Linked DNA regions of Homo sapiens. The protein of the gene in region 6 purifies or fractionates together with the protein of the main gene of each other region. This does not show direct contact. Each region holds a gene or a part of one and is shown on either strand. Other genes may lie near its edges. The genes, in order: PALM, PROS1, LRP11, SMPDL3B, FSTL1 and ZPBP2.

Region 1 (3,500 bases), on a different chromosome or scaffold from region 6:
GGTCCTCAGAGCCTGTGTCTCCCCTGAGCGCTGGCACCCCCGGCCCTGCTTCCTCCACCGCCCTGCCCTGCTCCAAGCCCCGGAGTCCAAGCCCCAATGTCAGCCCCTCACCCTTCATCAGCTCCCAGCTTCCCCTTTCCCTTCTCCACCGCCAAGATCAGCTCAAGCACAGCCACCTCCTCCAGGCAGCCTTCCAGGAAGGAACCTCCTCCCAGCCCTCCCAGGATGCAGCACGGAGGCCCCCAGGGCCATCCCAGTCTCTGGGGCACCGAGAACCCTAAACGGGTTACGGCAGAGAGGCATCACCCCGGGGGAGAGGAGAAGACGGAGGTCAAAGCAGGCCACAGATGCAGAGAAGCAAACCTGTTGCCTATTAACCTGGGGTGGGAAGGGACCCTGCCCGGGCCCTCAGGGGAAGACGGGGCAGTGAGGCGTGAACGGGGCCTTCCCTGGCTTTCAGCAGGGTCTCAGGGCAAACCCTGCTGCAGAGGCCCCATGGTCCCTCCCCACGCGACTGCACTCCAGCCACACTCCTGAGACGTCCCACAGAGCTCCCACTGCAGGGCCATTGTGCTGGCTGCATTGCTGCCTGGTGCACGGTCACCCAGACCTCCCCGGGCCTCAGGCCCAAGGCCTTTCTGCAGACGTCACCTCCTCATTTAGGCCTCTTCTGTCCTAATTTTCAGCCCCAGGCACCCCTGCAGCTGTCACCACCCGGATCACTTTACTTATCTTTTTCTTTTCTTTTTTTTTGAGATGGAGTCTCCCTCTGTTGCCCAGGCTGGAGTGCGGTGGCGCGATCTCGGCTCGCTGCAACCTCCGCCTCCTGGGTTCAAGTGATTCTCCTGCCTCAGCCTCCTGAGTAGCTGGGATTACAGGCACATGCCACCACGCCCGGCTAATTTTCGTATTTTTAGTAGAGACGGGGTTTCACCATGTTGGCCAGGCTGGTCTCGAACTCCTGACCTCAGGTGGTTCGCCCGCCTCAGCCTCCCAAAGTGCTGGGATTACAGGCGTGATCTTGTCTTCCCACTAGGACAGCAACTGTGTCATTTTTGTCCCTGCCATGTCCCTGGCACCAGGCATACAGCAGGTGCTCAATAAATGCTTGCTGCCCCAGGGAGTCGATTAGGGTCTTTCCATCTTCAGAGGAAGCCCCCACCCAGAGGTCCCCCCAATCCCGGCCCCCTCTTCTCACACTCCCGCCACTCCCAGGGCCACCTGTCATCTGATCACTGCCTCTTCTTTTTAAAGAAACTCACTGTCACGACTTACACTTATGTAAAGTAGGACCCGGACTCCTCAGTGTGAACAGAGCACAAGCTCCAACCATCTCGGGGGGTAACTACAGATTCACAGATAAACCAACCCGGGTGTCCATCCACAGATGTGTGGGTAAACGCAATGTGGCCGTCCACGCACTGGGACATGACTCAGCCGTGAACAGGAGCGAGGCTCTGACCCAGGCCACGGCGCGGATGCACCTTGAGGACATCACGCTCAGTGAGAGACGCCAGACACAGAAGGCCACGCAGCGTGTGATCCCATGTCTACGAAATGTCCAGGACCTGCCGATCCAGAGACAGGAAGGGGACTGGCTCCCCGAGGGCTGGGGGGAGGGGGACGGGAGGGGATGCCTAATGGGGACAGGGCTTGTTTTGGGGGTGATGAAAATGTTCTACAATTGTGGTGAAAGATACACAACTCTGCTGGGCGCGGTGGCTCACACCTGTAATCCCAGCACTTTGGGAGGCCAAGGCAGGTGGATCACAAGGTCAAGAGATTGAGACCATCCTGGTCAATATGGTGAAACCCCGTCTCTACTAAAAACACAAAAATTAGCCGGGCGTGGTGGCACGTGCCTGTAATCTCCGCTGCTCAGGAGGCTGAGGCAGGAGAACCACTTGAACCCGGGAGGCGGAGGTTGCAGTGAGCCGGGATTACGTCACTGCACTCCAGCCTATGTGACAGAGAGACTCTGTCTCAAAAAAAAAAAAAGTACACCCTGTCAGTGTACTAAAAACGCCTGAGCTGTACACTTTAAGCAGCCAGACTGTGTAGCGTGTGAAATGTATTTTAATGAAGCTGTTAAGAATGATATACATACAGACGTGTGTATACATACCTGTGTACGTGTGTGTATACGTGCATGTGTAATGGGAATGCCAGCCTTCTCAACAAGAGCCAGGCCAGGGGCTGGGGTCCTTCCCAACCCCCATGGAGTGCTGAAACCCCTGCTGGCCCTGCCCTGAGACTTTCCATGGCTGGAAGCGTTTGAATACAAACTGATGAGGACATCAGCTTCTCGCTCCCTGACAGGGGTTACTGAAGAACCCTGGGCCTCTGTCCCTCCCCGGCCTTCAGGGTCCCGCATCTCTGCCTCCATTGCCCACAGCCTCTGCCCACCCAGGAGGGGCTCCCAGGCCTGGCCCTGTCCCACCACCAGTCTGTTGACCATGCAGCGCCTCCCACTCAGCTGGCCTCACTCTGGTCCTAATCTAAACTTTCTTTTTTTTTTTTTTTGAGAGAAAGAGTCTCGCTCTGTCACCCAGGCTGGAGGGCAGTGGCGCAATCTCGGCTCACTGCAACCTCCTCCTGGGTTCAAGCGATTCTCCTGCCTCAGCCTCCCGAGTAGCTGGGATTACAGGCACCTGCCACCATGCCTGGCTAATTTTTGTATTTTTGGTAGAGACGGGGGTTTCACCATGTTGACCAGGCTGGTCTCGAACTCCTGAACTCAGGTGATCTGCCCGCCTCGGCCTCCCAAAGTGCTGGGATTACAGGCGTGAGCCACCATGCCCAGCCCTAATCTAAGTCTTCCCCATCCCAAGGCCTAGCTCCCCTTCCCTCTTCCCACCCAGTCCAGGCTCTGTCCTGGTGACTGGCTCTGACTGTCCCTGAATTTCTGCTTGAAACCCTGGGGCGGGAGACAGCCACTCTGGCCTGATTTTACACTCCTCAGACACCAAGACGTCCACGCAGCCATCCTCCTAGAGGACGCCCTCCACCCCCTCATGTATCCAGGGACCAGGCTACTTCTCCCCAGCCAGGGAGCCCCGTCCCTGTGGGCATCACTGACCACACGCAGTTCTGGAATCCTGTGTTTGCCCTCCTAGACGTGGGGTCCTGCCCCCTCTGGCTCTGCCATTTCTCTGCATGCTGCCCCTGCAGCCACAATCAAGGCTTGGCCATGACTTGCTCCTCCCTGGGCTCACTCCTCAGCTGCCAGCGCCTTTTTTGATGACCAGGTCAGCCACTGCTCCTCCCCTGCTCACACACTATCCATGACTCCCCATCCTGGCACTCAAGGCCTAGCAGGAACAAACACCAAAGAGCATTCTCTTCTTCCAATGCTTTCCCACCTCTAGCCCTTTGCACATGCCAGTCCTTCCACAAGGTGCATCCTTCTGCCTGCCTGGATGAACCCTGAAACATCCTTCTCAGAAAAGGTTCATGATGGACTGGATGAGGAAGCCTTTCTCACACCTCAGAGAAGATGC
Region 2 (3,500 bases), on a different chromosome or scaffold from region 6:
TGAAACCAGCCTGGCCAACATGGCAAAACCTCGTCAAAAATACAAAAATTAGCAGGGCATGGTGGCGCACCCTTGTAATTCCAGCTACTCAGGAGGCTGAGGCATGAGAATCACTTGAACCTGCAAGGTGGAGGTTGCGGTGAGCCGAGATTGTGGCACTGAGCTCCAGCCTGGGTGACAGAGTGAGACTCAGTCTCAAAAAAAAAGAAAAAAAGAAAGAAAAGAAAAAGAAAAACTAGCTACCAAACCATTCCCTTATTCTAAGCAGAAGGTAGTATTTTGAAAATCTGAGGCTGGGTGCGGTGGCTCACACCTGTAATCCCAGCACTTTGGGAGGCCAAGGGGGTGGATCATGAGATCAGCAGTTCAAAACCAGCCTGGCCAAAAACACAAAAATACAAAAATTAGCCGGGCGTGGTGGCGGGCGCCTGTAGTTCTAGCTACTCAGGAGGCTGAGGCAGAAGAATCACTTGAATCCAGGTGGCAGAGGTTGCAGTGAGCCAAGATTGCATCACTGCACCCCAGCCTGGGTGACAAAGTGAGACTCCATCTCAAAAACAAAACAAAACAAAATAAAAGATCTGAAACCTGTGGTGCATTAAGGGTAATCCTGGCACCAACAAAACTTAAGAAGCTCAACTTTTCACTAGATTGATTCAATCCCATTACTAAGAGCCTAGCAAAAGAAATGTGCTCATTTCCAGACACAAATATTCTTTATCTCAGTCTCTACTGTTATACGTAAGATGCCCAAATCTAAACCAAAAATTACATGGTACACAAAGATGCAAGAAAAACAACACTTGGTCAAGGGACAAAGCAAACAAAATGACGAGACTCAGATATGACACAGTTGGAACTACGAGACAGGGAATTTAAAATAATTATGATGAATACATTGAAAACTCAGTACATAAACTAGACAAGTGTGAACAGATAGGGAATTTCAACAGGGAGGTAGAAATTTTAAGAAAGCATCAAATAGAAATGCTAGAAATGAAGATGAATCTTTCTGATGCATTCATTGATAGACTCCATACAAGTGAGAAATCAGTGAACTTTAAAATAGGTCAATTGAATTTACCCATAAGGAATCAGGCTATGTACTGATAAACCTGAAATAACAACACAAGCACATTCAAATGCCTTTATATTTTTCCCAATACACTGAAAAATTTTTGTAAAAGGTATATAATAGTATGAATAAGCATAAGACTAGAGTGGGCACACAGTAGATACTCAATAATGTTTCACAAATAAATTATTACTGTTTGTTAATGAATAAATTTACTCATTAATGAGAAAATAGAGATAAATGGAAAATCACTTACTATAATCTATGTGAAATTGAGCAATTCCAGAACCAGGATAGTAGGAGCCCTTCTCCACAGTAACCAGGCAATGCTTATTTTGTTTTTCTTGAATAATTTCCTTTATTCCAGAAGCTCCTTGCTTCATCAAATTCCAGCTTCGTATACATCCATCTAGACGAGGGTTAATCTAACAAATTAAAATACAAGTCAAGGAGTGCATTTTAAACTTAAACAGTGGCTCGATTATGAGTATAGGTTTTCATTAAGAGAAAAAAAATCCTTTCTTTGATAATAGTTGAAAATATTTTGAATTTTATTTAAGTTTTTCTTTTCAAAGTATTCTTCAGATGGACAGTCTTTTTCAGTACAAGCAAGCTCATACTATCACAAGCCCTCAGTGGGATCTTAATGGTTTTTAACACTTCAAGCCCCACCTGCCTCTCCTACATCATCCAGTGGTAACTTTTCTGCTTTCAAGTTCTATATTTGCTTCTAGCTGTGGCCCTGGGCTCTAAGTTGTCTTGTTTATCTTCTTTGTTTGTTTGATTGAGATGGAGTCTTGCTGGAGTGCAGTGGCAGGATCTTGGCTCACTGCAACCTCTGCCTCCCTGGTTCAAGCGATTCTCCTGCCTCAGCCTCCTGAGTAGCTGGGATTACAGGTGCCCACCACCACGCCTGGCTAATTTTTGTACTTTTAGTAGAGATGGGGTTTTGCTACATTGGCCAGGCTGGTCTTGAACTCCTGACCTCAGGTGATCCACCCGCCTCGGCCTCCCAAATTGCTGGGATTACAGGTGTGAACCACCACGCCTGGCCTTGTTTTTCTTTAGTGGCATTTATAATATGGGTTTGTCTTGCCAATCAGACTCTAAGTCTCTTCAGACACAAAAGTGTTTGCATTCTTTAGCCTCCATCAAGTATCCTGCCAGGCTCAAGACATGTAATAACCGTTTCATAAATGATTGATACTTTTTGAATAATTTATTTTACTTTTAAAGTGTATTAATTTCTCAGTTTCAAACAACAGGTATACTCATGTCAACATGGGTTAATTAATTCAAGCTTAATATCATATAATGGAAATCTTTTAAAAGTTAAAGTAACTACGAATTTCCAGAGAATGAAAGACGGATGTAAGATAGTAAATATTTAACAATAAATTTCACCTTATGTGCTATTCTTTAGCTCTTGCATTTAAGTCCTAAAAATAGACTTGAGAAAGTCCTTTGACTGGCTTTTACAAAATGGTGTAATTTTGGACTTAAATATATGAATTTATATGTTTAACAACTGAGTATGGATTATCATGATGTTAACACTGAACATTACATTACTAATGTTAACATTAGTGTTAACATTCTCAAGTGTTAACTTGAGAATTTTAGAAATCCACTTCATGATTTATGCTGGGGATTTAAATGGGCACAAAACCACTACGTCATTTTTTTATTTCATTAATATAATTTCAAGGGTTACTAATGTTATTTTTCCATGATCATTTCAAGTTGTCACACTTAGTATGCTTAACAAAACAACTTCTATTGATTCTCAGAAACACACATATTCAAATCTATTACAGACAAAAGGAACTCATCCATGATGAATGATACAAGCTTGGATCATTACCGGTTTAATGAGTTCACTTTCCACTTTCCGAGGGAATCCTGCAAAGTATACTTTGGTTTCCAGCAATCCATTTTCCGGCTTAAAAAGGGGTCCAGGTTTATTTATATCCATCACAGCTTCTTTAGCTATTTTAATGCTAATACTATGTTCTAATTCTTCCACAGACACCTACAATTAAAAAGAAAAATTACCAAATAACCAAGTATTACTACATGTCATTTGAAATACTGGGATCTAAAACTTATGTTATTATTCCAATAAAATACTTCTGTAAAGTAATCATTTTAATGTAATTATTAATTTGTTACAACTCATTTGGAATGTCAAATTATGATAAATGTGATAAAAAGGCATTTAGGGTGGCAGCACGATCAAAAATTAAAAGCATACCATATTTTAAAGTTAAAAAAAATACTATTCTGTTAAGCTTAAACATCCAGTTATATATCTTTCAATTCCAGGCTGCTAGAAAATTAACAATTAAGTGAGCCATTCTATCTTAGGAAAAATTTAAGTGGCCTTATTTTGCAATTGTCTGATAATACGCACATGGAATCAATA
Region 3 (3,500 bases), on a different chromosome or scaffold from region 6:
AGTCTTCCACAATGTTTCCTGACAGTCTTCATCCACCAAATGGGGATGTGCCTACAAGTGAGGGTGTCCAGTGGATTACAGATCTCTCTAAGCTGCCTGGCACTCAGTGGGTGCTCAATCCGTGGGGGCTTTGATTATGATGAAGTCTCAGCAGGATGAGTGTTAACTTTGGGTGACATTCATGAATGTATATCATTCTAAGACAGTCACAAATTGGTAACAGATGTTTCCCCTAGTACAGGCCCTGTCATTTAGATGATGGCTTCATAACTTGAGGTCTACCTGCCGTCACTGTTATACACGATTGGGAACTGGTTCAGAGTTTCCTCTTGAAGGCAAGAAAAATGCAGCACGAACCCACTGTGTGATGCAGCTACTGACACAGTTCATGTAACGAAGCTCATTAATAGAAGGAGAGGCAATATCTGGATCACAGTAGGTAATGAATGAGTCAGAAAACCAAAGCTTAAATATGGGGTTCAATTAGGGGTATTAGATGTTAAGAAGGGTATGGATTAATATGAGAAAATCCAGACAAGGCAGGATAGTGGCGGGCCTGAAAAATCAATTCATATGAGGAACATCTGACAAACTGTGGGGTGCTGAGTTCTGAGAACAGCATACCAATTGGTGATGTTCTTTCTTTCTTTCTTTCTTTTTTTCAAAGACTTCCAAAGCTTTTACACAGGATAAAAAGATGAGTTCAGTGTTTTTCCAAAGGGAAGACCCAACACCAATGCACAGAAGTAAGGGGAGGCGTAGCCTGCTTGCCCAACACAGTGATGAGTAATGTCATGGACATGATGTGAAGTAGTGAGCTTCTGCCCTTGGAAAAGTCAGACAGATGGCAGATGAGCCTTGGAAGGGGTGTTGTGGAAGGCACTCTTGTTTGGAGGAGAGGCTGGGAAGGATGCTGGGTGTATTAGTCCATTCTCACACTGCTACAAAGAACTGCCCGAAACTGGGTAATTTACAAAGGAAAGAGGTTTAATTGACTCATAGTTCCACATGGCTGGGGAGGCCTCAGGAAACTTACTAGTATAATCACCGCAGAAGGCAAAGGGGAAGCAAGGCACCTTCTTCACAAGGTGGCAGGAGAAACAACCAAATACTTATAAAACCAGCAGATCTTGCGAGAACTCACTCACTATCATGAGAATAGCATGGGGGTGACTGCCTCCATAATTCAGTAACCTCCACCTGGTCTCTCCCTTGACACGTGGAGATTATGGGGATTACAATTCAAGATGAGATTTTTGGGTGGGGACAAAGGCAAACCATACTGGACGAGGGTGAGTCCAATTCTAATGCAATATAATCAGGGAGTAAAATCACTCTTACTTAAACCAGTGATGAGGGACTTCCAGATTTGTTTTTGTTTTGGTTCCAGTAGAGTACAAATCAGTGCCTCCTTACCTCACCCTCTTTCTCCACTTCCTCTAACTGAAGTGGTTTGGATGCAGTTTATCTGCCTAAGCCAGGAAGTGCTTATTTGCCTAAGCCAGGAATCCACCCTGAGAGGGTGAATAAAAAGCCACTTGTCTCACCACCCAAGACTTCCTGAGCATAGGCAGCCACCAGCCACATGGCTGATTTCCATCGGCGGCTATCCCAGGAGCCCCGGGCAGGAGCCCCGGGCAGGAGCACCGCATGCTGGCCTCCCTCCCTCACAGGCTCGGTGTGCCCCAGCAGACCTAGCTGCCAGGTAAGCTGTCTACTTTCCGGCTCATGTGAAGGATAAGTTCATCCTATTGTTATTGTCCTCTTTAGACTCCTTTGTAGTTTCAAATTTTCTACCTGGATCTTGAGCTCAGAAAAAGAAATAGAACTTTAAAAAAGTAATCTGAGTCATTAAAACAAAGCATGAGCCTTCTTCCTTGAAGTGTCTTTGTCCTCTAGACAAGTCACAAACAGCAGCTAGAAGGAGGGTAGGCTCCAAGACAAATGATCGAGATTGCTGCTCACTCTCAGCAGAAAAGCACATTGAGATAATAAACCATTTTGGCATAATCAGTTTTATACAGTCTCCATTTTATGCCTTCTGCTAGCGTACAGACATTTAGGGAGCATGAAGTGGCAGGACATTACAAAAGACCACTTCACTGAAATACTCGTTTTTGTTAGCAGTGACAACATGCGTTACCTTCATGTCCACTGACGGGTCCCCCTGCAGCAGTGCCCACTCATACTGGACGATGGCGTGGTCATCTGTGCTCTCGCGGCCGTCTAGAACCACCCCGTCTGTGGGCAGATGCAGAACCACATCCTGCCCAGCCTTGCTAAGTGGAGGCGCATCCTTTTCTGAGAAAGAAAATAAATAATTCATAAAAGATGATTTCTTATTTTTTCTAATTTATGGAGAGGTATCTTGTTTGCTGAATAGATATGATTCGGCAAATAACTGCTAAGAGAATCCATATTAAATGGAAATTATTTTTCTATTTATTTTATGATCGTGGAATTTAGCTATAATATGCGCAGAAGAGGCTGTGTGGAGTGTTGGCTGGTAGCGATTTTGGGTACAAGGCAGCATACGAGGTCCCACCAATGTGTAAATATGGAGAAGCAGTTTTATTTTCTAGAGTGGATTTTTCACTTAATTTTAAAATCACTTAAGTTCAAAATACTGTTAAATAAATTTATTTTAAAAGATTATTATTATTTTGAGATGGAGTTTTGCTCTTGTCACCCAGGCTGGAGTGCAATGGTGCAGCCTCGGCTCACTGCAGCCTCTCCCTCCCGGGTTCAAGCGGTTCTTCTGCCTCAACCGCCCGAGTAGCTGGGATTACATGTGTGTGCCACCACATCCTGCTAATTGTTTTTTGTATTTTTAGTAGACACAGGGTTTTGCCATGTTGGCCAGGCTGGTCTCGAACTCCTGGCCTCAGGTGATCCATCTGCCTCGGCCTCTCAAAGTGCTGGGATTAGCAGCGTGAGCCACTGCGCCTGGCCTTGAAAAGATTATTAAAACAAACCTGAAAAACACCAAATTCACCTCTAATATGGATTTTCTTTTTTTCTTATCCTCAAGTTTTAAAAATAGGAGTGATATAAAGTATTCAATGAATGGGAAATATATTAAGTTTGAAAAGTTAAGGCAAATTTTTAGAGCCATACAAAATAAAGCCTGCATGTAAATTCTCTGGAATCCAATTTTTCATCTAGGAAAATTGAAGACGTTCACCGTTTCTAATAACTAATTTTTATAATAGAAGCCAGCAGGCTCAGATGACTACAACAGCAAAATAAATCTGTATTTACCTTTGTTTTTGTTTTGTTTTGCTTTTGAGACAGGGTCTCTATCACCCAGGCTGGTGCACGATCATAGCTCACTCACTGTAGCCTCCAACTCCTGGGCTCAAGTGATCCTCCTGCCTTAGCCTCCCGAGTAGTTAGGACTGCAGGTGTGTGCTAACCTTCCCACCTATTTTCACTCTTTTGTAGTGAGAGTTGCCCAGGCTGGTCTTGAACTCCTGACCTCAAGTGATCCTCCCACCTCA
Region 4 (3,500 bases), on a different chromosome or scaffold from region 6:
CAAAATTCTTGGGTCCACCTTAGAAATGCTTGGCAAGGGGAGGAGAATGGTGGCAGGTGGAGTGTAGGGATGGGGAGACGTCCGGACAGTCAAAATCCTGGGGCCTCTGCTGCCCAGGTATTCCCCCAGGGAAACTAATTAGCATAATAGTATTAATACTGCTGCTAGAAGCTCACACCGGCTGACTTTCTGCCAGGCACTTTCTGTGTGTTGTTGCCACAGCCACTAATTTTTTCCCCATTATAACACTGCAATGTAAATTCTATTATTAGTTTAGGCCCGTTTGACAGATAAAGAAACCAAGACACAGAAAAGTTAAGAATTTTGCCTATCCTAAATCAAGCACCAGAGACACGGGGGAAAAATTGTACCTAAGTGTACACCACTAGAAAGTGGTGGGGCCAAGATTTGAGCCCAGTCAGCCTGGCCCCAGAGTCTATGCTCACAGCCACTGCATCCTATAGTGTCTCTGATACCCACATTAGGGCAGCAAGAGGGGCTGTTTTGCCCTGAAAACTCCCTGGGGACAGGCCGGAAACCCAAAGACACAGGGACAAAATTTCATATTTTTAATTTCTAGGTTAGAGAATCTAATTCTGTCTGATAAAAAACACACCTAGGCCGGGGGCGGTGACTCACGCCTGTAATCCCAGCACTTGGGGAGGCCGAGGCAGGCGGATCATAAGGTCAGGAGTTCGAGACCAGCCAGGCCAATATGGTGAAACCCTGTCTCTACTAAAAATACAAAAATTAGCCAGGCGTGGTAGGGGGCACCAGTGAGCCGAGATCGCACCACTGCACTCCAGCCTGGGCGACAGAGCGAGACTCCATCTTAAAAAAAAAAAACAAAAAAACACCTAATTTCTTTTTTTTTTTTTTTTTGAGATGGAGTCTCGCTCTGTCACCCAGGCTGGAGTGCAGTGGCGCAATTTCGGCTCACTGCAACCTCCGTCTCCCAGGTTCAAGCGATTCTCCTGCCTCAGCCTCCTGAGTAGTAAAACATACCTAATTTCTAATGGCCATCCTCAAAGGGACTGCAGCTCTCTTAGAAGTCAAATTTTATTATAATTGAAGAATTGTAAAGGGTCCTAGAGATCTTCTCATCTGATGCTGTGTACCTCTTCAAGGTCTCAGAGATTTCCCAGGAAAAAAAGGTGCAACTGTGGCCGGGTGCAGTGGCTCACGCCTGCAATCCCAGCACTTTGGGAGGCTGAGGCGGGCAGATCACCTGAGGTCGGGAGTTTGAGACCACTCTCACCAACATGGAGAAACCTTGTCTCTAATAAAAATACAAAATTAGCCGGGCGTGGTGGCGCATGCCTGTAATCCCAGCTACTCGGGAGGCTGAGGCAGGAGAATCGCTTGAACCCAGGAGGCGGAGATTGTGGTGAGCCAAGATCACGCCATTGCACTCCAGCCTGGGCAAAAAGAGCGAAACTCCATCTCAAAAAAAAAAAAAAATGTGCATCTGTTAAAGGATCATGAATTTCCTGAGGGATCCCATCTGTCTGAATGCTACACATGCTCTCCCTTCTCGGAGAAATCAGAAGCTCCCCTCAAGGGAGCAGGCCCAAGGTCATGGACCAAATCTCACTCTCTTCTTAGATTGATTCCTGAGCCCAAGGAAGCCAGAGCTGTCCAGGCCCCTCCTGAGACAATGTCACATGTCTTCTTATGTGTCCAGCCTGGCAGGTTCATCTGAGGGTCCTTCCTGGTCACACCCACAAACCACATCACAGCTAGGGGCATCATGGGTTTCACCCTGCCTTATAGAAGTGTCCACTGAGGCTGGTAGAGGGAGCGCAAAGTCAGAATTCCTTCCAGCCTTCCTCGAGAGCTCCCCTGCTCCACCACCTCCTGCAGGATGTCCTTCCCCTAATCCTGCCAGATGGGATCATGTGCCCTGTGAAGTTCCCACATCCCCCCAGGTGACTCTCTCTCCTTGCTTGGATGTAAGGGTAGGGTCAATGGGTTTGTCTGCATTGCCCACAAGAACGTGAGCTCCTTGGAGCCAAGTGTGGGTGTCCATCATCTCAGATCCCTAGCATCTACCCCACAACTGAGCACGACTTGTTGCCCTGCCAAGTGAGGGAGCAAGCGAGGAGATGGGGGTATCTTTTTTTCTTTTTCTTTCTTTTTTTTTTTTGAGACAGAGTCTTGCTGTGTCACTCAGGCTGGGAGTGTAGTGGTGTGATCTTGGCTCACTGCAACCTCTACCTCCCAAATGCAAGCGATTCTCCTGCCTCAGCCTCCCGAGTAGCTGGAACCACAGGCGTGCACTACCACGCCAGGCTAATTTTTGTATTTTTAGTAGAGACGGGGTTTCACCATGTTGGCCAGGATGGTCTCAAACTCCTGACCTCAGGTGATCCACTGCCTCGGCCTCCCAAAGTGCTGGAATTACAAGCATGAGCCACTATACCCAGCCGGAATGGGGGAATCTTGAATGATAAGGAGGCAAGTTCCCAGGAAAGTTGAAGGAATTAGAGCAGCAACCTTGGACAGGAAGCAGAAACTGGGTCTCTGCGGCTGAGTGGGATCGGCCCTCAAGCTGTCACTCTGTAGAGCAGAGCTCTGACTGGTGAGAAAATCCAGGACCACTGGGCAGCCCAGGGGTGGCCAGCAGCTGGCCAGGACACTAGGACCCCAGGCTGGGCCACCTTCAGCCCTCATAACTTCTTCCCTCCCTGCACTTGGACCTCTCAGACTTAGAGTCCCTAAGCCCCAGGGGAAATGGCTCCAGTGTCCACCCATAGCTTAAAACCTGGACACTCTCCGGGTGCCCAGGCATGCCAGGACCACGTCCAAAAGCCTGATTGAGAGCTGCGTTCTGCCACAGCCAGGAGACATGGAGGTCGAGGACACAGACTGTGGAATCAGTTGGACTCAGGAATCCCCGGGCAAGTTACAAAATTCCTTTGAGCTTTAGGTTCCTCAGCCTCACGTGAGACTGATGTGAGGATTAAGGGAGATAATGTGGGCAAAGGGCCAGACTGGTATGTAGCACATAGCAGATGCCTGGCAAAGGGTAGCTGCCACCTCAACTGTACTCACCCAGTCCAGAGAATGAAGTCTGGCTCTGGCTCAATCTCCTTCATGGCATAGATGGAGGAGTTGATGAGGGCCCAGGGAGAATCACAGAGGTAGTCACCCCAGGGGCCTGCGTCGGGCACTGGCTGGGATCCAGCTGATGGGCACACCTGGAAGGGGTCTTTGGATACCTTGTAGTCAGGGTCAAGGTGCAGGTCAGCGATGTGCCAGAACTTCCCTGCAGGGGAAAAAACATCCTCCTTCAAAGCTGGTCTCTCTCTCAGCCTGGAAGCAAGGAAGTCCAGGGGAGCCCTGGGCTGGGGCAGGGGCGTTACACAGGCAAATGGAAGTCTTCTCTGAGCACCCCGGGTTCAGAGAAAAGGCCCACAGGCCTGGCTCTGCCCAGGGACACATTGAGCAGAGCACAGAACAGGCTCAGCTCCATCCCTGAGCGCTGACCTTTGGCAAGG
Region 5 (3,500 bases), on a different chromosome or scaffold from region 6:
ATTCCATTATTACTACTTTCACTGTTACTATTTCCATAATGTTACTATTCCATTATCATTTACTTTTGCCCAGGGTCTTGGTCCTCTCTTATTCCAAGCCTCTGGAGTGATTTTCAAACTGAATGCCTATGGGATAAATGTTCTGCCCTCAAAGCTCCCCACTTGGGGCTCCAACCTTACAGGTGTGGGTCTGCCTGGGTTCCTTGCTCCCAGCCACCGCCCTCTTCTCCATCATCCCCACCCCAACTTCTCTCATGCTGATTTCATGAAGCTCTCTCCTTGCTGTTTTTTCTTTCTGCTTGAAGCACAGCTCACCGTCACAGGTCATGGCTGTACAGACCCAATTTCCACAGGCACAGACACAGCGGTTACAGTCCACCTCGGTCTCAGCTCCATCTGCATACGTTTCATCCTCCAGGGCACACTCTGTTGGGCCAGAAATACGGGGCAACAGTTTAGCTGTGAGGGTGGAACAGGGCATCTTTGCTACAGTCTGTGCACCTTACCCTTTTTTCCCAGACAAGACCTGCCTGTCCCTCAGAAGCACTATATCTGAGCAAACACTACCATCAACCTAAAGAATGTGGGGCCCTAACTTCACCATGGGGAGAATGGGCTGGGGCCCAGTTTAGAATCATGGAAGGGGATTTTCTCAGCTAGCTCTGGAGAGTTCCACCAATCCTCTCTATCTTGGCTCCTACAAAATGCCTCCATTCACTACAGCTCTCTATTTCTTAGGTTAGGCATACTCTTCTCAGGAGGGTTGAAAGATGGGTTGAGGCACTTGAGAAACTCTTGGAAGCTGAGTTTCCAATCAGCATTTTCATCAGACAGTTCAATGAGAGCATCAACACAGAGTCCCCTGAAACAAAACACAGGAGAAATGTGTTAGCAAGACCTCAGCTTCGCTCAGAAGAAAGGAAGTAAGCATCAGGACCACATACACCCAGGGCCTCCACAGGAGGCCAAGAAGATGACTGCTAACTAAAACAGCCTCTCTCTACACTGACCCAACACAACTATTATCCATCCTGACCAATGCAGGCATCTAACCTTTAGTTTGTTATATGAATGTCAGATCACCCAGGCTGTCCAAATGTTCCCCCCCTTAAGATGACTAAAGTTTCGTGAATGGTTTTGTCTAATGTTTTCACTGCCTGCATACCTTCCACTAGCAATTGCTTTTCCCCATGGTATATACACGTCAAGTCAACCAAACTAGGAAAATCAAAACAGAAGAGATATGACAGATGACATGAAAGGAATATAGGATTTGAAAGAATATGAAGTTCAAGCAAGAATCACCATTATCATCCTTCTAGAAAGAGATTTTCAGAAAAGCTTTTAGAACTCAGCTCCATCAGCTTGCAGTGAGCCGAGATCCCGCCACTGCACTCCAGCCTGGGCGACAGAGCGAGACTCCGTCTCAAAAAAAAAAAAAAAAAAAAAAAACAAAAACAAAACAAAACAAAAACAAAAACAAAAAAAAACAAAAAACAAAACAAACAAAAAAAAACTCAGCTCCATCACTTCTTTCTTGGGCTGTATTTGAGCCCTGGCTCAATCACTTACTACTCAAATGGACTTGAGTTAGTTATTCAACTTTTCTGAGCCTGTCTTCCCATCCGTAAAAGGAGGACAAGAAGCCCTCCTTCACTGGGATATCATGAGGCTCAAACGTTGAAATTATAAAACATATAATTTCAGATTATCAAAATATGAAGGATTTACAGAACCTATACTTTAAGGTCATAGACTATTATTAAAGAAGAATCCTTCTAGAAACTGTGCAATGCACTTCTTTTGAAAAAAAGACATGCTTTTCCTATTTTTAATTCTTACCGATGTGCTGAAACCACATCAAAAGTTTCTTAGCGATTAGTTTTTATTAATATTGATTCTGGAATAATGCCATAAAAGTAGACGGGCATATATCTGTAACAGTTAGGGCAATTGACATGAAATAGCACTAATTATCTAAAAATCAGAACAAAGCTATTTTAGACCTATAGTTAAATAATACATTACTGTAATTCCTTCAGAAAATTAATCAGTAAAACATCACCCACAACATTCAGAAATAACTTGCTCTGACGTGCCCTTGGCAATTTATTTTAAAATTATATTCTTCTAGTCCTTGCAAGTTCTGACCAAAAACAATAACTATTTGATTAGATATCAGTGGTACTCAATATATTAATTCATACTTTCATAGAATAGAACAGGACAGAATTCCCATTTTGCTTTTTACGTGACATTCTCTCACTGGTGGCTCTTTTGCAGGTGGGAAAGGGTTTAAGTCCCCTCTCTCAGTTAGTCTTCCCTTGTGGATCATTCTCTGACCTCTCGGTTCCTCTCACCTAAGCAACTTGTTGTTCTCCTGGTCTGGATACGTTGTAATATTGATGGCAGTTTCATTCTGTTCCACAAACTTCAGGAATTCACTGGAGTCCAGGCGAGAATCACCATTATCAAAGTTCTAGAAAGGGCATGACAAGATCGTTCAGGGATGTTTTGCAGAACCCCTGTTCCATCATTACTCCACTCAGCTGACCTGCCTCTGATTCATCTTGTTCTTGATACATTCCAACCCTGCCCTGACCTCAGAGGGCCTTGGCAACAAATGCTCTAATCCCTGGGACATGCAGAGAAGGTACCTGTGCCCACAATGAGAGAGGAAAAGTGCCTGGGCAGAGGAGGCAACCTGAACTGAGGCCTCTGGGGTCCCTAAGCATGCTGTGTGGCCCCATCTCTGACACTGCCCTGTAGACACTTTTGACTATACCTTTGGGTTCAGACCAACCTGCACATCATGTTCTCAAGCCCTGATGAACATGTAACAAGAGTTTAAAGTTGCACGCTGTGAATCAGAATCTCTGTAGCAGGTCCCAGAATATGTTTCTAATGAGCTGCTCAGGAACAGCAGCAATGCAGATGACCCTCTGAGCTCACTTTGGAATTATAGGATTCCAAATCTTGTTGCTTGATTCCAGCCTCCTTGTCCTGTTCTCAGTGCTTAACTTTCACTTTGGTGCCCGTAACTGATCACATCAGTGAGAACTCAGGCAAAGGCCTCAAAGCAATAAGCTACAGACAGGGGTCATCATGCAAAGTTCCCGCTCCTCTGCCCTGTGGGCCCCACTGCAGATGTGTGCACAGGTCCTCAGATCATCCAGCTCAGGCTGCCCTCATGACCCAGCTGGCATCCCACAAGCACAAAGTGAGGAGTGCAGTAAGCTCACACACTGTTCTCTATGGCAAGATGCTAAACTGAGACCTCAGCCATCTGGGACCATTCAAGACACCCAGGCACTAGCTGCAGGAGGAGGGTGTCAAATCAAGACTGATCAAATTCCAAGTTGCATATGGCTGCTCTCCTAACAAATTTCAATAACATTTTCCCCCTTCCTCCCAAATCCTTTCCCTAGGCTCCCTCATGCTGCTGCCCTGGGAAAGGATCAGCTTCCCCATGTTACTTTCAAGATGGCTCCCCAGATGGT
Region 6 (3,500 bases):
CCATATGAAAAGATGTTCAACATCAGATGCCATTAGGGAATTGCAAATTAAAACAATAAAATACCACCATACACCTATTAGAATGGTCAAAATAAAAAAAAACTAACAATACCAAATGCTGGGAAAGATAAGGATAACAGGAATACTTTTTCATTTCTGGTGAATGCAAAACGGTAAGCCACTTTGGGAGACAGTATGGCAGTTTCTCATAAAACTACACATAGTCACACTCCGGCAGTCATATTCCTAGGTTATTTACACAATTGGGTTGAAAACTTATGTTCATACAAAAACCTGCACACAAATGTTTATAGCGGCTTTATTTTTAATCACTGAAAACTGGAAGCAATCAAGATTTCCTTTAATGGGCGAATGGATAAACATACTATGCTATATCCATACAATGAACATTATTCAGCAATAAAAAATGAGCTATCAAGTCACAAAAAGACATGGAGGAACCTTAAATGCATATTGCTAAGTGAAAGAAGCCAGTCTAAAAAGTCTACATACTGCATAACTCCAACCAACTACATGACATTTTGGAAAAGGCAAAACTGTAGAGACAGTAAAAAGATCAGTGGTTGCCAGGGCACGGCGGGAGGGATAAATAAGTGAAGCACAGGATTTTGAGGGTGGTGAAACTATTCTGTATGAGACTGCAATGGTGCACACATGCCATTATGAATTTGTCAAAACCCACATAACCTTACAACACAATGAATCTTAATGTGAACTATGGGCTATAATTAATAATAAATTAATATTGGTTCATCATTTGTAACAAATGTGCCACACTAATGCACCATCTTAATAATAGGAGAAATTGTGTAAGGAGGAATGAGGGTATGGGGTGCAGTGGGTGTATGGAACTCTATATATTATCTGCTCTATTATTCTGTAAACCTAAACCTATACTTTAAAAAATACAGTATATTAATTTATCTTAAAAAATAAAATCATAGGGACCAAAATAAATAACTTTTTTGGTTCTAATACAAAGATAATATACACGCCTTTATATCACACAAGAGTGATTCCAAACAAATAAATATATGGAGAGTATACAATTTTTATTTTATTATACTTTGATACTCTTCTTGACCTTACTATACTCTTAGGTACACAGCAACATACCGTTTGTAAACAATAAAACATTTCATTAAAAATAATCCATTAAAACTTCAAGTTTCCTTTGTACACTAGAGATACTGGATTAAATGCCTTCTTAGAAATGCCATGTTAACCATTTATTTTAAAGTTTCCAAAATGCATGTTTTCCAGTGGTTTGGTCTTACTGATTTTACTTAATGGAACTATCTATGATGCTCTGGGATGTGAAAATCATCTTATGTCCCCGACTTCCACAAGTAAGTAACAATGCTTTCACCTCTAATCTTCATATTGCTGATTTTTGTTTGAAGTTTGTGGGCAAGATTTAGCTCCATAGGTAAGGACGGAAACGCAGGTCTGACAAGTTACATTAACATCAGGACTAAAAGTCGCAGGACTACAAACCACTGCAGAGGAAAACACAGGGAGTAATTATAATTTAGAGATATTTTATGCCTCTACTACTTGGAGGTATTCTATACCAACAATATAAATCTGCCTTTAATATCATACCATTTCAGTACCTATATTATACCAGGTAATGTTCAGCCCATTTAAGTTGTGGAAGATTATGTGAGTTTCAAACTTTATAATTTGATGATCTTAAAGATAGGAGAAAGTGAGAATCCTATTTTTTCTTTTACTATCAGCATTTTACAGTATCTTCTGCAGTGCCCCATTTATGAGTTCCTATTTCTAGTTTTCTAGTTCCTATTTCCTAGTTCTCTGCTTTCCAGGTAGGACCATTCTGTTTTCCTTCATTGTACAGTAGCTTAAGACAGAACATTATAGAAATGTTTATAATACAAGAGAGTACATCAGGAAGAGTTAATATACATTAAAATAACTATATTTAGAAATTTGGGCTTTGGCTGGGCGCAGTGGCTCATGCCTGTAATCCCAGCACTTTGGGAGGCCAAGGCGGGCAGATTGCTTGAGCCCAGGAATTCCAAGACCAGTCTGGGCAACAGGGCGAAACTCTGTCTCTACTAAAAATACAAAAATTAGTCAGTAAAAATACAAAAATTACAGATTGCACACCTGTAATCCTGGCTACTCAGGAGGCTGAGGTTGAAGGATGGTTTGAGCTTGGGAGGCAGAGTTGCCATAAGCTGAGACTGCGCCACACTGCACACTGCACTGCAGCCTGGGTAACAGAGCCAGACTCCATCTCAAAAAAAAAAAAAAAAAAAAAAAAAAAAAAAGGGGCCAAGCATGGTAGCCCACACCTATAATCCCAGCACTTTCGGAAGCCAAGGCAGACGGATCCTTTGAGGTCAGGAGTTCAGTCGAGACCAGCCTGGCCAACATGGTGAAACTCTGTCTCTACTTTTTACAAAAATTAGCCAGCTGTGGTAGCTACTGGGGAGGCTGAGGCAGAAGAATCACTTGAACCCTGGAGACGAAGGTTGTGGTGAGCTCAGATGACGCCACTGCACTCCAGCATGGGTGAAAGAGTGAGACTCTATCTCAAAAAAAACAAAAAAAAAAAAAATTGGGGCTTTGAATTTTTACTTCCTTTTAGCTAAATATATATATATTTTTTGGTAAGAGAATCACTGTAAAGATTCTATTCAGTTATGCCAAGTGAATTACTTATATATTCTTCTGACTCTATAACCTAAATGTTTAGATATTTATATTTTATAGTTACCACAACAGCTAGCGCAATTACTGTGTAGACGTTCATTTTTTCCAAAGCCTGGTCGACAGCTATCCAGACGTACTACTTGCAAACTGTGGTCCACAAAATGCATTGCTGGTAGAGTTTTATTAAAGTTATGGTAGAAAATATATGCTTGGCTCCGAAAAAAGTCTTCTATTCGATCTCTTGCCTAAGGTTGAAAAATACCAGAGAAAGGTACAATTACTAAACCATGAACCAAATTTATCCTCCAGTATCACAGGCAATAATGTACTGTAAGCATGCCATACTTAACGTAGATAAATTCCTGAAAAGGTGTGTGTTAACACCAAAATTAGTTAGCTTTGACCTTATCAACTGTTGTCAATTAATATGTGCAATGGTTAAGAAAAATTGGCTGGGAGCGGTGGCTCATGCCTGTAAACCCAGCACTTTGGGAGGCCAAGGCGGGCAGATCGCGAGGTCAAGAGTTCGAGACCATCCTGGCCAACATGGTAAAACTCCATCTCTATTAAAAATACAAAAATTAGCTAGGTGTGGTGGCATGTGCCTGTAGTCTCAGCTACTCAGGAGGCTGAGGCAGGAGAATTGCTTGAACCTCGGAGGCGGAGGTTGCAGTGAGCCGAGATCGTGCCACTGCACTCCAGCCTGGCGACAGAGCGAGACCCCGTCTCAGAAAAAATAAATAAATAAAAATTAAAATTAAGATTAGGCTGGGCGTGGTGGCTCACGCCTGTGATCC

What was found.
Region 1: the proteins of ZPBP2 (region 6) and PALM purify together in Homo sapiens (affinity purification with mass spectrometry; one large-scale study listed by BioGRID and IntAct). This does not show direct contact.
Region 2: the proteins of ZPBP2 (region 6) and PROS1 purify together in Homo sapiens (affinity purification with mass spectrometry; 3 studies listed by BioGRID and IntAct, with this or other methods). This does not show direct contact.
Region 3: the proteins of ZPBP2 (region 6) and LRP11 purify together in Homo sapiens (affinity purification with mass spectrometry, with the first as the bait; one large-scale study listed by BioGRID). This does not show direct contact.
Region 4: the proteins of ZPBP2 (region 6) and SMPDL3B purify together in Homo sapiens (affinity purification with mass spectrometry; one large-scale study listed by BioGRID and IntAct). This does not show direct contact.
Region 5: the proteins of ZPBP2 (region 6) and FSTL1 purify together in Homo sapiens (affinity purification with mass spectrometry; one large-scale study listed by BioGRID and IntAct). This does not show direct contact.

The regions. Positions count from the first base shown.
Region 1 is NC_000019.10:715,435-718,934, reverse strand, and holds part of PALM (paralemmin-1), read right to left. Parts: intron 1-3,500. UniProt on the Homo sapiens protein: Involved in plasma membrane dynamics and cell process formation. Isoform 1 and isoform 2 are necessary for axonal and dendritic filopodia induction, for dendritic spine maturation and synapse formation in a palmitoylation-dependent manner.
Region 2 is NC_000003.12:93,883,397-93,886,896, forward strand, and holds part of PROS1 (vitamin K-dependent protein S isoform 2 preproprotein), read right to left. Parts: intron 3,108-3,500; coding exon 2,940-3,107; intron 1,501-2,939; coding exon 1,332-1,500; intron 1-1,331. UniProt on the Homo sapiens protein: Anticoagulant plasma protein; it is a cofactor to activated protein C in the degradation of coagulation factors Va and VIIIa. It helps to prevent coagulation and stimulating fibrinolysis.
Region 3 is NC_000006.12:149,850,860-149,854,359, forward strand, and holds part of LRP11 (low-density lipoprotein receptor-related protein 11 isoform 1 precursor), read right to left. Parts: intron 2,333-3,500; exon of another isoform or gene 2,302-2,332; coding exon 2,144-2,301; exon of another isoform or gene 2,125-2,143; intron 1,706-2,124; exon of another isoform or gene 1,555-1,705; intron 1-1,554.
Region 4 is NC_000001.11:27,945,000-27,948,499, reverse strand, and holds part of SMPDL3B (acid sphingomyelinase-like phosphodiesterase 3b isoform 1 precursor), read right to left. Parts: intron 3,269-3,500; coding exon 3,055-3,268; intron 1-3,054. UniProt on the Homo sapiens protein: Lipid-modulating phosphodiesterase. Active on the surface of macrophages and dendritic cells and strongly influences macrophage lipid composition and membrane fluidity. Acts as a negative regulator of Toll-like receptor signaling.
Region 5 is NC_000003.12:120,402,493-120,405,992, forward strand, and holds part of FSTL1 (follistatin-related protein 1 precursor), read right to left. Parts: intron 2,480-3,500; coding exon 2,361-2,479; intron 863-2,360; coding exon 750-862; intron 427-749; coding exon 316-426; intron 1-315.
Region 6 is NC_000017.11:39,874,702-39,878,201, reverse strand, and holds the end of ZPBP2 (zona pellucida-binding protein 2 isoform 2 precursor), read right to left. Parts: intron 2,949-3,500; coding exon 2,768-2,948; intron 1,521-2,767; coding exon 1,393-1,520; 3' UTR 306-1,392; downstream 1-305.